Regions from separate parts of the Homo sapiens genome. Here region 1 is linked to region 2. Evidence: fine-mapped expression QTL. Tissue or cell type: whole blood. Region 2 holds a variant in brackets; the other region holds the start of a gene. All regions are shown on one strand. Distances are from middle to middle.

The links. PIP is the estimated chance that this variant, and not a neighbour inherited with it, causes the effect.
Region 1: SLC9A7 starts here. The variant in region 2 is fine-mapped to the expression of SLC9A7 in whole blood (TOPMed, PIP 0.91).

The regions. Positions count from the first base shown.
Region 1 is chrX:46,754,743-46,762,989 of GRCh38, reverse strand. SLC9A7 (solute carrier family 9 member A7) reads left to right here and starts at 3,872. Exons shown (of 17, transcript NM_001257291.2): 1 at 3,872-4,285. The coding sequence starts at 3,961. RefSeq lists silencers at 3,591-3,940, 3,961-4,100.
Region 2 is chrX:46,595,227-46,603,473 of GRCh38, reverse strand. It overlaps CHST7 (carbohydrate sulfotransferase 7), which reads right to left. Exons shown (of 2, transcript NM_019886.4): 2 at 4,978-5,714. SLC9A7 (solute carrier family 9 member A7) reads left to right here. Exons shown (of 17, transcript NM_001257291.2): 17 at 1-4,223. Among named protein-coding and RNA genes, the nearest start is that of CHST7, 26 kb to the right of the region's middle. The variant C/A (reference allele first, on the strand shown) is at 4,286.

The sequences.
Region 1 (8,247 bases), 160 kb before region 2:
TTGGGTTGTATCCTGGACATTTTGAATATTATGTTATAGGACTTTGTATCTTGTTTTAATACTATGGGGAAATATTCATATTTTTGTTTTAGTTTGTAATAGACATGCTTGGGTTTAGATCACAAGTTCTGACATGCCTTTTGTGGATAGTGGCTCCAAAGTCAATTCAGTTTTCAAAAGTTTGTAATGCTATTCAGATCTGTCCTACATGTGTTTTATCCAGTGGCTAGTCTAGGGCTTGGGTGGTGGTCTGCCTCTTAGTTCAGTTATCACAGTCTTTGGTATGCTGTTTAGGATCAGATCCATGTGCAGGTTGGGGTGAACCTAGGAGTTCATAAAAACTTTATGAGGACCTTTCCCAAGGTCCTCTCCTCTCTACTGTCTCCTTGGTACTTTGTAATGCCTTGGAGTTCCCCTTTTAATCAATTGGCAAGAAATCTAGACTATTTAATTTATTTAAAGACAGGGTCTCGCTCTGTCGCCCAGGCTGGAGTACAGTGGTGTGATCATAGCTCACTGTAGCCTCGAACTCCTGAGCTCAAGTGAGCCTCCCACCTTAGCCTCTTGAGTAGCCAAGACTACAGGCAAGCACTACAGTGCCCAGCTAATTTTATTTTTAAATGTTTCATAGAGACAGGGTCTTGCTACATTGCCCAGGCTGTTCTCCAACTCCTGGCCTCAACAAATCCACTCACCTCAGCCTCCCAAAATGTTGGGATTACAGGGGTGAGCCACTGTGCCTGTCCAGAAATCTGGGTCTTTATTTAATCCTCTCTGTTATGTATTTCCTGAAACTTTGCCCATGTCTTGGGCCAAGCATCAGGACAGAGAGAGTGAAAAAATATATATCATTGAGGTTTTGGCCCCACTGTCTTGGGACCAGAGCTACTTCAAACAGAGAGGAAGGTTCTCCCCTCCCTTAGCATTTTTTGGGTGCTTGAAGGTATTGCTGTCTCCATTGTCACTGTTGACTGAGGTGCCACAGTGGGATTGCTTATTGGCTAAAATGTAAGAGAATGGAGAAAAGAAAAAAAATGGCACATTTCTCCTACTTTCTCTGAATATTAGGAGACCAATTTTCTGCTTTTCCTGGAGCTCTCTCTGTCCATGTTGATGCTCCCTTCCGGGTGTTAAGCTGCCTTGAGTCCAGTCTAGTGGAGACTGGAGGAAAAAAATGGTAAACTCACCGCCAGTTCAGTTTTACTTCAAATTCTGTTGTTTTTCCTCAGTTTATGTGGTACAATTTACTTTCCAGAGTCCTCAAATAGTTGCTGCATGCATTCTGTTCACATTTTATAGCTGTATTCAGTAGCAGGTAATGGGTTTAGTGTGATTATTCTGTGTTAACTGAAATCAGAACTCCTGTATTATATAGGTTAGTTTTCACACATAAATATGTAGAGATAATGGAGTGTTTTCTTTGGTGTGTATTTGTGAATGGTTGGGACTAGTCTTTTCATACTCTACCCAAGGGAACTACTTTACATAATAAATACTCTTCTGGTTATCTATTGCTGTGGAAGAAACCACCCTCAAACTTAGTAGCTTAAAATAACACCAATCATTTTATTATGCTACAGTTGCAGATGTTGGTTAGGTTCAGCGACATGGTTCTTGCTTGGGGCCTCTCATATGTCTACAGTAAGATGGTGGCTGGGAATGAATTGATTTGAAGACTCATTCATTCACATGTGTGGCATTTGGGCTGGGAACACTCAAAAAGTTGGGTCTCCTGTGGCATCTACCTCTATTGCTACATGGTCTCTCTACATGGTTTCTTCAGTATGTCAGCTTCCAGGTAGCTAGATTTCTTTGTCTGTTTGTTTGTTTTTTTGTTTTTGGAGGCAGGGTCTCACTCTGTCACTCAGGCTGGAGTGCAGTGGTGCAATCTTGGCTCACTGCAACCTCTGCCTCCCAGGTTCAAGTGATTCTCGTGCCACCACCTCCCAAGTAGCTGGGATTACAGGCACACACCACCACACCCGGCTAATTTTTGTATTTTTAGTGGAGACAGGGTTTTGCCATGTTGGTCAGGCTGGTCTTGAACTCCTGACCTCAGGTGATCCGCCCGCCTTGGCCTCCCAAAGTGCTGGGATTACAGGCGTGAGCCACCGTGCCCAGCCTAGCTAGAGTGGAAAGTGACAGAATGAAACAGGCAGGAGCTAGATTACCTTTTATGACCTAGCCTCACAAATCACATAATCTCCATTACCACATTATATTCTTTGAGGGAGTCACAAAGGTCCACTGAGGTTCAAGGGGAGGGAACATAGATGCCCCTTCTTGATGGGGGATGGTAAGGTTCTGGGATTGGAAATATGATTGTGGCCATCTTTTTAAAAAATACAATCCGCCACAAATACTAAGAAGTCTGTACTTTTAAGGTAGCTCCTGAGTTGCCCTTTTCTAAAGAGAGAAATTCTGTCCTTGAGTACTGGGCACCCAAAGGGGCATAATATTATGACCAACACAGTGCCCATCCAGGTTTTAAGTATTTGCAATTTTATTGGAAACCTGTGTGGAACTTCAAGGTATACGGATGTTTGCAGGGGCTGAGTGACTGCCTAGAGGAGTTGGGAAAGGGGCTAGCTAAAATGTAGATGAAGAGATTTCCCTGCTTTAAAGAAACCACTAAACAGCTTTGGCAGAGTGCTCACCTACAGGGGAACCAGGAAGGCTGCAGTACTCCAAAGAGTTTTCTTACCTAATGCTACCTCTACCCTATTATTTCATTTGGTTAAGCATCACCTTCTTCAATGAATCCTCTTAAAAATGCAAACTCCCCTGGGAGCGAAAACATGGGCAGTTTTGGTAGAGATTTCAGAGTGGTTCAATAAACACATGAGTACAGTGCTAAGCACTGGGAACTCAGTGATTAATCTGATCTTGTTTCTTCCTTGACCAGAGGAGCAAGGTGGATTGAAGATTCTAGTTTTCCTGAGAATTTGTTCCAAGAGGCTTCATCCTTCAGAGTCCACGCCATAATTTTGTTCAGAGCTGGGTTTGGTCTTAAGAGTCATTAAAAGACTCTCTGAGCTACCAGGTGAGCAACATAAAAGAAAGGGTCATCAGGGTAACCCCCACCCCCCACCACCACCTTAGGACCAGCTACTGCTCATCTACCAGGAATGGCAAGCGTTCAGTTCCTTCTGGTTCAACCCTATTCCCCAAGGGGATTAGTAGCACAGCGCAGACGAAGTCTATTCCCTCAAGTGAGGAAGGAGATACTTCAATGCCCTCCCCCGATTCCAACTCCTTATCAGTCCTCACATTTGAGTCTGATGAGAACAGAGGTTTGAATGAAACCTAGCAGATTCTGGGGCTGGAAGGGCAACCTGAGAGATGAGGAAAGAGAGGTGTAGGGGCTAACGTGGCTTCGGGGCTGCTCGGTTCACTGACAGCCCCCACTTTACTGGGCCCAGGGCGGCTGCACACTGGCCTGAGATTAAACACTTCGCCGTGGCGCCAGAGACGGGACTCGAGACCGCAAGGCTAGTCACTCCAAGCCGATGCTCCCGCTAGGCGCCGGCGACCTCTGGCGTCCCCTTTCGGAAGTGCGGCGGCGGCTGCCCATGAACTGGCCCCACGACCCCAGACTGCCTGGGCAGGTGCGCCAGGACGGGGTGAGAAGCGCAGAGAGGCAAGCAGCCGGCGGCCGGCCCGCAGACCCGAGGGCAACACCCGGCCCCGCCTGGGTGGCTCGGTTGGCCCGCGGGGCGGTGCGGCGTGGCGCGGCCGGGGGACGAACAGGTGCGCGGGCGGGGGGCGGTGCTTGGGGATCCTGCGCACTGCGCGCGCCCCTCCCCCGCGCGGCCCCGGGCGCAGCCCCGGCCCGGCGCGAGTAGGAGGAGGAGCTGCAGCGGCCACGGCCACTCCGGCAGGTCCGCGGTGCTGCCAGAACCCGCCGACGGCGCGGGCTGCTGGTCCCCGCTCGGAGGAGGCGCGGGGGGCCCCGGGACCATGGAGCCTGGTGACGCGGCGCGCCCTGGCTCGGGTCGGGCTACCGGGGCGCCGCCGCCGCGGCTGCTGCTGCTGCCGCTGCTGCTGGGTTGGGGGCTGCGAGTCGCGGCCGCGGCCTCGGCCTCCTCCTCTGGGGCGGCGGCGGAGGACAGCAGCGCCATGGAGGAGCTCGCTACTGAGAAGGAGGCGGAGGAGAGCCACCGGCAAGACAGCGTGAGCCTGCTCACCTTCATCCTGCTGCTCACGCTCACCATCCTCACCATCTGGCTCTTCAAGCACCGCCGGGTGCGCTTTCTGCACGAGACCGGGCTGGCCATGATCTATGGTGAGCACCCCTGTTACACCCCCCGCCCTCCACACCCCTCGGCCGCCGCGCTCCTCCTGGCGCCGCGCGGTGCTCCCCCTTCACTTGCCAACGTGTTCCGTTTCTTTTACGTTTCCCGCTGCGACGGTGTTGGTTCCCAAGGTCAACTGTCTGCATTTTCTGGCTCTCTGCTACCGTTAAAAACAATTCCACCCCTATTCCACGTTTCTGCATTGGGAACCCAGGAAAATGAAAGGGACAGAGGTGGTCCGGTTCCGTCTGCCCCGTTCGGTCTCTGTTGCAAACCTCTTACCCACCACCTCCCGCTCCAGTTGAGCTCGATAGGGTGTGTGTGCCTGCGTGGTGGCTGGAGGTGGGTGGCTTCCCAGGTGACTGCATCACCTCAGGGGACAGGCCACAGTAGGGAGTGGGGACGAAGTCTGAAAGTGTCTTTGCTTGGGTATGGGTTAGTGGGGCCTCTTGGACGCCACATCCATGGTCAGCCTGGGTGGGTACCCACTCCTGAGGTCCACATTCCCAGGTCTCTTAATGATAAAGTCAGAGCATGAAGTGTGGTGAAAGGTGAGCAGTGGTCCAGGACCCAGAGTGGGTGGCACCACCATGTCAGGCCTGGACGAGGAGACAGGCACGCCTCCTGCTCTTATGTCCCGAGTGGAAAGTTATACCCAGTTACTTGCTTTCTCAAACGAAGAGGAGCTTTTGTATTCCTAAGACGGTAACAGGGAGTGAGTTTGAGATACATTTCCGAATGTATGAAGGGGAAAAGTCGTGGTTTTAATTCCGGAGTCAGCCATCTTTTGTTGTTAGGGGTGGGCTGATGCTACCATCCTTTTCTAGATTTAATGGTACACAGTGTGTTACATGCACAGTGGTCAGTACAAATCTCCCTTTATTACATGGATGTCAGCCATAATCTGAGTCATCCCTCTTCCTCTTCTGTGCCCCCTGCCTCCCCCCTCGCCCTGCCCATGACTCCAAAGTGGAGTCAGGTATTCTCTTTTTGAATGTAATTCAGTGGTGTTAAAGCCCCTGAATTGGCATCCTCACACGAAATAGACGAGCCACTTCATGATTGTTCCCAACGGGGAAAATTTTATTTTATCACATATACTGAGGGATTTCTTTATTCAGTTTCCATCCAGGTGCCCTGATAGAGAATGGAAAGCAGAAACCTTAACCTTTAATGTGAAAATTACCCTTGGTTCTGGGCCTTGCTTCTCATGTTTCTTGATTAGTTGTTGACAGCCGGGGCTCATGGCCACCAGGCCCTCGCAGCCAAACCGTGTAAGGGGCAAGCGCTGTTAAGAGCCCTCCAGTTTTGATGAAGTAGTGACCTACACAGATCTTGAAACAGGACCAGGTCTAAAACCGAGTTTGGTGATTGCGAATTATAGGTCTCAACACAGACTTTGGCCTCCATCCCTGACCGTTGTTGAGCTCTGTGGTTTGTGTCAGTTGGTGATAAATGACTGATGCCAGGCCTGCAGGTAAGCTGGGAGGTTTCCTGAGAAGACAGACAGGGGGGAATTGAAGCACGTGGTCATTGCAGGTGATTGACTCCAAGCCATGATGCAAATGAAAATTGCCTTTATATAGATAACCGTGAAAATATTTTTATTTAATAGGCCCTAGACCCAGTTTCTTAAAGGACAATGTGAAATAGGAGGTAGATTTGTCAGATTCGTAAACACATGCTCAAGGGATGGAAAATAAATGGGGATTTGAAAATATATTTTCTGGAGAGTACTCCGTGTTCTGAGGAGTTCAATCACCTTTATCTTAAGGCTTAAAGACAACAGTGGAATTTTCCTTTGCTGATACGTACTTTTAAAACTCACCTCCATCTTTCAGCCATTTGGTTGTGCTACAGTGTACTGTTTTATTTTGTGAACAATCAAGTTACAAATCTAGTGTAACTGATGGCTGTTCAGAAAAGGCAATATCATCTCAGCATTCCTGTGTAATTTTGTTCTATATCTTTGAGTATTAGTGTTTCTTTAAATGTATAAAGAAATTTAGTTTGTCAATATGTGATGTCTCAGGTTATGCCAAATATTAATATTTTAAGGACTGTCTGTAATTGTGAGAAAACATTTCTTCTTTCTCTCAGGTATGTTTGGTCTTCTACTGCAAGGTCCCCCTAATCTGAATTCTAATGTCATGTGATTAGCTAATTATTCATAGTATACTGAAGACTATTGGGATGGGGATTTTAAACTGATCTTAAAATTCAGTTTGCAAATCTTTTAAAAAATTGTCTGCATTTAAGATGTACAACATGATGTTTTGATAAACACAATGAAATGATTACTACTGTCAAGCAAATCTTTGAACACAAGTAAATCCAGTAAAGATTTTTCAAGACTTCTCTTTTTTAATAGTAAAAAATAAAATTTGATTTCTCTATATCAATAGAGGAAGTGAGTAATTGTCCTCTTGGCTCTGAATAAGGAACGACAAAAAGACCTAAGGAAACATTTTTAAAGTATCCACTGTGTGCTGGGAACCCAACTTAATTTCTGGAGGCAAACAATTTAACTTTTAAATGTTTATGAATGAAAGAGTTCAACTGTGAATTTCAAAACTCTTTATTTTGAGAAAAAGTTTTAAAATGTAATTTCTGCCACCTTTTTGTGTTTAAGTGACACTTTAATCTGAGAAGAACAGCGTTTACATTTAAGATAAATTTATATATATATAAATTTATATATTTGTTGGTATAGTCGTAAAATATCTCTGGAAGGACATGCAATAGATGAGTAACATTGGTTTCCTTGGGGGAGAGGAACTAGATGGCTGTGAAATAGGAGTGGGAGGGAGAGGTCACCATATAACCTTGTATGCTTCTTGGTCTTGTAATAGCTTTTTTTTTTTTTTTTTTCCAAGACGGAGTCTCACTCTGTCGCCCAGGCTTGAATGCAGTAGCGCAATCTCGGCTCACTGCAAACTCCACCTCCCGGATTCAAGCAATTCTTCATCTCAGCCTCCTGAGTAGCTGGGATTACAGGCGCCCGCCACCATGCCCGGCTAAATTTTGTATTTTTAGTAGAGATTGGGTTTCACCATCTTGGCCAGGCTGGTCTTGAACTCCTGACCTCCACCCACCTCAGCCTCCCAAAGTGCTGGGATTACAGGTGTGAGCCACCGCACCCGGCTGTAATAGCATTTTAACGTGCTCCTCAAATCACTCAATTTGACGCCTACTTCTCCCTATTTAAATCACATTATGTTATCAATTTTCTTCATGACTTTTCAATTCTTAATTGTGCCCTTGGAGCTTTTCTGAGCCCTGTGTCTGGGATGGAGATAAAATGGGGAAAGGGGAAGAGATTTCTCTCTCTCTCTCCCTCCCTCCCTCCCTCTCTCACCCTCTCTTTCCCACTCGCTCTCTCCCTCTTTTTCCTTCCCTTTATTCCATTATCCTCAGAGAGTAGTCAATGTTACATTAGCAGTGATGTGCACAAATAGACCCCATAATAAGTGCTTGCTTGGATGCAGAGGACCTAAGGAAAATAAAAGACACACTGTGAATGCTTAACGTTTAAACAGAAAGGAACTCCCCCACCCACCAAAGGACACTTATAAGCATTCCTCCCTGACAGGCCAGGGCAGCTACAAGGGAAGGTAGCTACAGACCTAACTCCCCAGGAAGGTTGAAAGCAGCCCCCAGACCCCACCACTGGAGCTGCAAGGCAGCGGGGCCAGGCACTTGCCTGCCACCAGTCTAACCTGTTTTGTCAGGCCAGGGAGCTCCCAGCTGTCTGTCTCTGTTATGTGATTAAGTGCCATCCTAAAGTTACTGGGCCCTACATGTCTTTGCAGCAGAAATAGAAAGTGTTTAGGGCAGGGAAAGTTGGTATAAACAGACTGTGCCAGTTCATTGTGGTTCTCTCTCAGATGTACGGTAGTTCCACTTCCCCCATAATGTTTTTGTGACAACTGATATGGATCCAAAATAATCT
Region 2 (8,247 bases):
CCTTCCTAGTCTTAGTTCAATTCATAGAGTGTTGTGTTTATCCCCAAAGGGTCTTGTAGTCTTCACTGCAAACATTTGATTCTGATCTACTCACATACAAGGAAATGTAGATTGCCAAGACCAAAACTAGAGGGGTGGGCTTCCCATCAGGGTTTTCCTGTGTGGAGATGACAGGGGAAACAGGGAGGAAATCCTAATTATGGCTTGTCCTCTTCCCTGAATTGCTGTCTACGACAGTGTAGTTCCAATGTAAACAAGGTGGGTTGGGGATGGTTTGTATAGGGCAGGAGGCCCACCCAGAAGTCCTACCCAGGGAAGAGAGGGCCCAGAATCTAGTTGCAGCATTTGCCCAGTAACCCTACCCCGGCCTTTCTTTGTGTGTTAGGAAGCTGGAAATGCAGGCTGGTCTCCCTTTCTTGCCTTTGTCACTAACCCCGAGCTGTCAGCCATTTGGAATCAGAACTGCTTTCCAGTGTTCTAAGTCCTTATTTGATTACAAATATTTGGTGAATCAAAGTAAGGCACTTTGGTCCTAATTTTTGACCTTTGGTCCTAATTTTTGTTTGTAAGATGTGGAGAATAACCCTGACCTTACCAGGGGTCCTGGGAATGTGAATCCATTCGTCAAGTGGTTCCACATCTAGAAGAATTTTGCCTATGCCATGTCAGGCATCATTCAACACAAGGCCAACTATCTGCTGCCAGTCTGGCATAAGATCAGATTGAAACTGCTAAGTAATGGTACATCCAAATAAACAAAGTTCTTCCAAGAGAGTAAACCCAAGTCCATCTTATACACGTATTTGTTCTGGGTTGGTGGGGACGACAGTTCAGCCGAGTCCGATGTTCTAGAGCAGAGGTTCTCAACCCTGGCTGTGAATTAGGATCATCTGGCCAGTTTTTGTTTTTAAATCAGTGCAAGGGCCCTCCCCTCAGAGATTCAGATTCAGTAGCTTCAGGTGGGACCTGGAATCCATGCTTTGTTTGGAACCTCAGGAGTGTTCTTGATGTGCAGCCAGGATTGACAAGAGCCTTTAGTCTAGAGCTCGCAGCAGACCTCTAGACTATTTGGAATCTGATTTTAAAGAATGGCCCAGCAGATGAAGGTGTTTTTTTAAATTGTTAGTCATGTGAAACGAACTGAGTATTGATCAGTAATACAGACAGGGCAGCTGTGAGAGAGTTTGATGCTAATCTTTGCAGAACTCAAGAACATACTCCATAAAGTACAGCTGAAAAGATCACGAAAACCTTGGAGCCTTCGAGGAAAGAGAAGGGTGACTTGGGGTATGTATGGGGAGAACTAAAAACCTGTCATCTTGGTTCCCACTTGTGGGGAATAAAGGGAAGGTATTGTCTTAACTGAGCTGCTAACTAATCAAGCATGAAGGTTTCTGGGAAGCTGTTTTGTTTTTTTTTTTTAATTTCACCTGGAATTAAATTAATAGTCCCCTCTGGAGTCAGATTTTCTTTTCCTTCACCTATCCTCATGCCTGAGTCCACACTGGATTCCTCAGAATAAGGGTGGGCCCATTTACTGCTGGAGCAAAGTAGAAGGTTGTGGTCCTTTGCTATCACATGGTGATGGTGGTGGTTTCCGTAGCAGGTAATTAAGGAGATGCACACTTTTGTATAGCCCTGACAGAGAGAAGATGAAAGCTGCTATTCCTTTTAGTACACTTTTTGAGAACTACCAGAAACCTGAACTTTCTCTCCTAGGGAAGAAAATTTGGAATTTAAATAAGGCCACATTTCTTCCTAGGACACAATCACAGGAAGGGCATATGGATCCGAGCATCCAGGGTGGTTACTGGGGTGATCAGACAAATAAGCATTGATGCCTGGAAGGCAGAAATCACACTGCGACATCAAATGTTTCATCAAGCAAACAGCAAGGATCTCTTCAGGCTGTGTTCTCTAGACCCGAAAATGTCCTCTGTGGTTTGGCTGACAAATGGAATCTCTTTAGAAAACATGCAAAAGGGTATCTCAGCTATCCATGAACGATTCGGTCTAGGACAAAGAACTAACAGTTCCTTCCAAAATAGAGGTCTGTTGGTCTGTTTGACGTCATCCCATCATCCTATCTCTCCCTGTCCTTGTCTGCAGTAGAAGTTAATGTAATCATACCAGATGTTTAATGTGAACAAGTAATTTCCAAATGTAGAAACACCACTGATGCACTTAGGGGGAAAAACAGTGGCAGGGTGTTAGAGCATCTCATCAGAGGTGAAAATCACCCACTTGGAAACCTACTGTGCACCCGTTGTGAGTTCTAAGAGTGTATCAGAAAGCTGATTTTACCATCTGTTGTGAAAGATTATCTGCAATGAGGGCTGCTAGAAAGTCAGCCTGCTGATCTCACAAGTATATGACTTCTTATTCCACTTCAAAAGTGGGGAACTTGACAAGTTTCTTGTCTGCCTTTTGATGTTGATTCTATAGATTAATTAGTTCAGGAACAAGTCTTTCATATACATTAGACTGGTATCATTGAGTTCTGAGCTATTCTGTTGTTCTTTAACTGACACTCTGGATTGCCAGTGTCGGCTGCTACATTCTGATACAGTAAGTCAAAGGAATCTAGTGGCCAAGAGTTGTAGTTTAGAAACAACCCATCTGAATACTGCTTTTACCACTTTGATACCTGAAAAGATCATCCCCCTTTCTAAAACCTGAAAACAACATATAGAGAAATACTGTAGAAACCATTGCTAGTGTCTTAACTAGGAAAAGCAAGTAGACTCATCAACAATCCTTTCAAAACAAGACCTAGAGATAAACAGTTTTTTCCAGTGTCAATTTTCATAGACATTTTTAAAAAATTAAACACATCTTGTCACCCAGTGCTAGCAAAAATTGTAAAGAGCAAAACCAAAGTTTTTGATGTTAGTCTTATTTTTGTAAGCAGGGTATACTATAGTCGTGGCCCATATGGAACACACAGGCAGCCGGTTTTCTGCTACCTGAGCCTTGGAGAAGATGAGAAGGAAGGGCTGCCTGCTGTGCTGCCCTTTGAAAAGGTCCAAAGCAGACAGGAGCGCACACAGCAGAAGTCACCTTCTCCTTCTGATGACCACCTTTCAAAAGGCTTAACAGAATCACCAAGTGTCACAGTCAGCTCTTGGCCAGTGGAAAATTGTCTGGGCCTGTATATGTTGGAGGAACTCAGATAGAAAAGGACTTGTAAACAGCATGGAAACCTCAACATCTGCTGTCTCAAGCACTTAAAAAAGGCTACAATTCAGGTGTTACTGGATGACTTAACTGCATGGACATTTAGGGGCTGACTTGTGTTGTGATTATTCCAATTGTGGGCTTTGGAGAAGCAGAGGGATGATTTTCAGTTGTGTGGGTGTTAAGTCTATGGATTGGGAATTTACCACTGAAATTGATCGTTCAAAGTGTGACTTCATAGTAGGGCCAGCTCCTCCTAAGTTGTCCTTTTGTTTTTCACATAAAATACATCTGGTACTTTTTACTTGGAAAGTTGTACTATGTCCATGAAAATGGTTAAATGAGAAGGCCATAAAGATTCATTTAATAGCTGAAAAGCAACTTTTAAAATAGAATAGGACGAATTTAACATGGAATGATGTGACCTTCTAGGGAACTTTTTATAGAGAGCTTACATAGTGTAATTGGGGAGAATTTTGTCTTCTATTTCCATTCAACAGTAGCAAACTGGTGGTTTTATAAAATTAACATTATAGTATGTTATATAAATAAACGTTATATAAAATGACATTAAAGTATAACTGTGAAAAATTAAAGACTTGGCGTTATCCACAACCTTTATGTGCAATAAGGAAAACTGCAGTAGGCCCCCAAAGTGCCGTCTTTCCCTAGCATTTTACTCAATGTTTGCCTTTGTGTATGTTTAGATTGCTATTGTAAAGCTAGCCATGTGTGTTCCTGCCCTTTACTGATATTTAACACATTTTCTCAAAGCTTTTCTTTTTTTAAAAAAACAAAACTCAAAATAAAACAACTAACTGGCTGAGCTAATTTTGTTTTGTATTTTAAAGTAAAGTATCATCTGTTGGTAGAAGGCTGTAGTGTGATACTATTCTTAGTCTGTTTCCCTCACTGAGAGGTTCTTTTCTGGGTGTAAGCTATTCCTCTCCAGCTTTCTTTAGGCCTGGGGTTGGCAAACTACAGCTGGCTCCTGAACCAAGTCCAGCCCACTGCCTTTTTTTGTAAATAAAGTTTTATTGGCATGACTAGGCTCATTCATTTGCTTACTGTCTGTGGCTGCTTTCCTGCTACAATGACAAAGCTGAGG[C/A]GTTGCAACAGAGATCATATGGCCCATAAAAAGTAAACAGCTATTTACTATCTGGGCCTTAACAGAAAAAGTTTCTGCCAGCCTCTGATTTAGATGCTTGAAGAAATTCAGTTTTAAAATAGGGCTGGGCACAGTGGCTCACACCTGTAATCCCAGCATTTTGGGAGGCCAAGGCCAAGGTGGGTGGATCACCTGAGGTCAAGAGTTCAGGACCAGCCAGGCCAACATGGTGAAACCCCGTCTCTACTAAAAATACAAAAATTAGCCAGGCATGGTGGCATGCACCTGTAGTCGCAGCTACTCAGGAGGCTGAGGCAGGAGAATCACTTGAACCCAGGAAGTGGAAGTTGTTGCAGTGAGCCAAGATCGTGCCACTGCACTCCAGCCTGGGTGACAGAGCGAGACTCTGTCTCAAAAAACACAAGATGTAAAAATCACAGCAACAGATTTTTGAGACTTTCTAAAATGTGCATTAGGGTTAAAAGATGATAGATATACTTTAGCCTCTGCCTGTGACTCCTCCTTGCCTGTAACCATCTTTAACAGGCTTTGAATGTAGAACCCTGAAAAAGGCATCACCAACTGTTGGCAACATCAGCTAGTAAGACTGAAGCAAGTGGATTTGACATTGCAGCTTAATGCTTAAGTTCTTCTTTTACCGGATAATTGCTGAAATTCTTAAACCCAATATACAGTTTCTTCCACAGTCTTCATATTCCTTTGTATGTAGGCTAGCTTTTACCCAAACCATGCAATTGAACTGCATCCAAACAAAACAAATCCTGTCATTAACATGACTCCAGAGTCATTTAATAGTATGATTACAAAAACGCCAGACAGAAAAATTTTAAAGTAAAAGTGTGTTTCAGTTCATTAGGGTTTTCCCAGCCCAGGGAGAAAAATTACTTCTTTTTAAAAATCAGTTCTGGGTAGAGGGAGACGGAGCTATTTGAAGGACAGCTGGATGAGTCAGGTTAAAAACAATACTGCCCAGACCTATTATTATTTAATAATATTATTAAGTAATTTAATCAAGACAGGACTGCACTTGGCCCTTATTCACATTGATGTTTTCGTCCAGACACCTGCTGGTGTGAAATGGTACCAAATCACATCTCTTCTTTGTTGTGAGGATGCCTTGTTGAAATGGCTCCAGCAGTGGCAGGTTCAGCCTGGGAACTAAAGCTCTTCCTATTTTACAGCCATAAATATCCACATTGCACTGTCACTTCCTTACTGGAAACTTCATCTCAACCAATGCGTCCGTCATTATTGAACAGCTCATGATATTCCTGCTCAGCAGAATTGCACAGCAGTTGTTGGTAGCAAGTCAAGTCCCAGACTCTGAGAGTGTGACAGATTGCCCCCACAGCGCTGCTTCTCCAGTGCTGGGGCAGCATGCCGAGTGCCCCTGTTCGTGGTGACTGACCTAGAAGGGAAGGAACAAAGGACGTCTGAACTTCAGAACACAGAAATCCCCAGAAAGAAAGTCTGTTGGACCCTGATGACATAAGGCCTTTTAAATCAGAAACCTATAATCTTCCAAACCCATACCGAATCAGTATCAACCATTTCTGGCTTGTGAAGACAGACCAGGAGAAAATGACCCAAGAGGTGTTGGGTGAGGGTGAAGATGGGAAAACTCCGGGGGCGCCTCTGTTAGCATGGCTGCGCTTTCTGCAGCTGCTGTTGTGGAGCGCCTGCTGAGGAGAACAGGGCTTTCTGGGACCTTCTGGGTAGTGTGTAGGAGGAACTGGGATTGAAACCGTACCTTTAGGCACCAACCACGTACCCATCCATTCTTCACTTATGTACCAGTTCATATGTGCAAAACGCCAACAGCAACTGACGATTCTATAAAACTGAGGCTGTAGATAGGCAGTGAGTCCAGCTTTCTATCTTTGTGGCACCTGAACTTTTTTCTTCTTTCATTTAAACACATTGCTTGTGTCACTCTATGTGAGCAGTGGAAAGTGGGCTGACTCTAGTGTGTCTGAACTAGTCCTGTCACCAGTTTCTTGCTCTCCTGTGATCCTTCCTCTGATCCTGGATGTGTACCAAATTTGACATTTTCTAATGGAGTGAAACTGTCCATCAGCTTAATAGAACCACTGATGCAAAGTTTGGGAAAGGCAGTTTCAAGATGATTTAAAATGTGCAATAAAGATTCACACTAAGCATTAAGGAAAAGCTAATTTCAGAAATGCTTTGAGGCCTTTCTATAATTTTTTTTTTTTTTTTTGAGACAGAGTCTCACTCTGTTGCCCAGGCTGGAGTACAGTGGCATGATCTAAGCTCACTGCAGCCTCCACCTCCTGAGTTCCAGCAATTCTCCTGCCTCAGCCTCCTGAGTAGCTGTGACTACAGGTGTGCAGCACCACACCTGGCTAATTTTTTGTATTTTTAGTAGAGACGGGGTTTCACCGTGTTGGCCAGGCTGGTCTCGAACTCCTGACCTCAAGTGATCCACCCATCTTGGCCTCCCAAAGTGCTAGGATTACTGGCATGAGCCACTGTGCCCAACCCCTTTCTATAAATCTTTAGTATTTTGCTAGTACACATGTTTCATGAAAGGGCTATATAAGCAAAGTGACCCCCAAATGCAGAAGGGGCTGAGAAACCAAAGAAGGAGGCAGATAAGTCCAGCTTGTCATCACAGGGTGATTTTATCGGGGAACTTATGGACAGAAGTATGGTCTTGAGCAGCTGCAAGGCAGATAGATCTCCACACCATTACCCCCCACCCCCAGACCCAGGGATTATAAACCACAGGAAAAGGTACACGTGTTTCAGAGGGAATGAGTAGGAGTTTGATCTAAGGGCAGGATTTATGGTAAGGATGTGCTCTTAACACAAGGAACAATAGATGAACTGGAAATCTCAGAGGCATTCCTGGAACCAGGGTTAATCACAAGTCAACATAGTGGATTAGCATCCAAGATGGAGTTACTTTAGCCTCCACAACAGGTTACTTACATAAAGAGCCACCATGTCAAATTTCAGTCTTTAATAAAAACCAATTTCCAGGTGGGCCGACTTTTTTTTTTTTTTTTGACAGAGTCTAGCTCTGTCACCCAGGCTGGAGTGCAGTGCAATGATCTCGGCTCACTGCAATCTCTGCCTCCTGGGTTCAAGCGATTCTCGTGCCTCAGCCTCCCGAGTAGCTGGGATTACAGGCGTGCACCACCACGCCCAGCTAATTTGTGTATTTTTAGTAGAGACAGGGTTTCACCATGTTGGCCAGGCTGGTATCGAACTCCTCACCCCAGGTGATCAGCCCGCCTCAGCCTCCCAAAGTGCTAGGATTACAGATGTGAGCCACCGCGCCCAGCCAGATGGGCTGACTTCTAGTTGACAAGATGGAATAGATGCACTTCTTATTCCTCCCACAAAGTATAACTAAAAACTCCGAATATTATGTATAAAACAAAGATAAGAGTCTGAAGGGTGGAGAGAAGAAGGCCAACTGACTAGGAACCTTGGCAACTGAGGAATACTATGACCCTGAGTTTTCTTTTTGCTGCCTCTATATCCTGAATGTTGTGTGCTAAAGAAGCCAGCAAGCCAGAAATGCCAACTGTGACAGACACACACAAAAAAGCCCTGAAAAAAGCCTGTTACCTCTAGCCAAAGGACAGGAAAGGTTCACTCTAAAAAAGACAGAAACCAAGCACCACAATTAAAAAAAAAAATCCCCTCTCCTGTGAGCAAAGCCCTAGTGGGAAGCCAGGATCTCTGGACTGCCACCTTGACCTGGCAGTAACCAGGTGATGTGCCCCTTTCTCCACCAGTGTGGTGTCAGTGGAGGCCTGCTAAAAAAGAAGATTTAAATAAGATTTGGAGATTCATAAGATAATTCTTCCAGTGTCCAGGACAATAAAAAGAGCACTTGTCAAACCAAGAACCAGGGAAATTTCAGCTTGAATGAGAAAAGACAACTGATACATACCAACACTGAGATG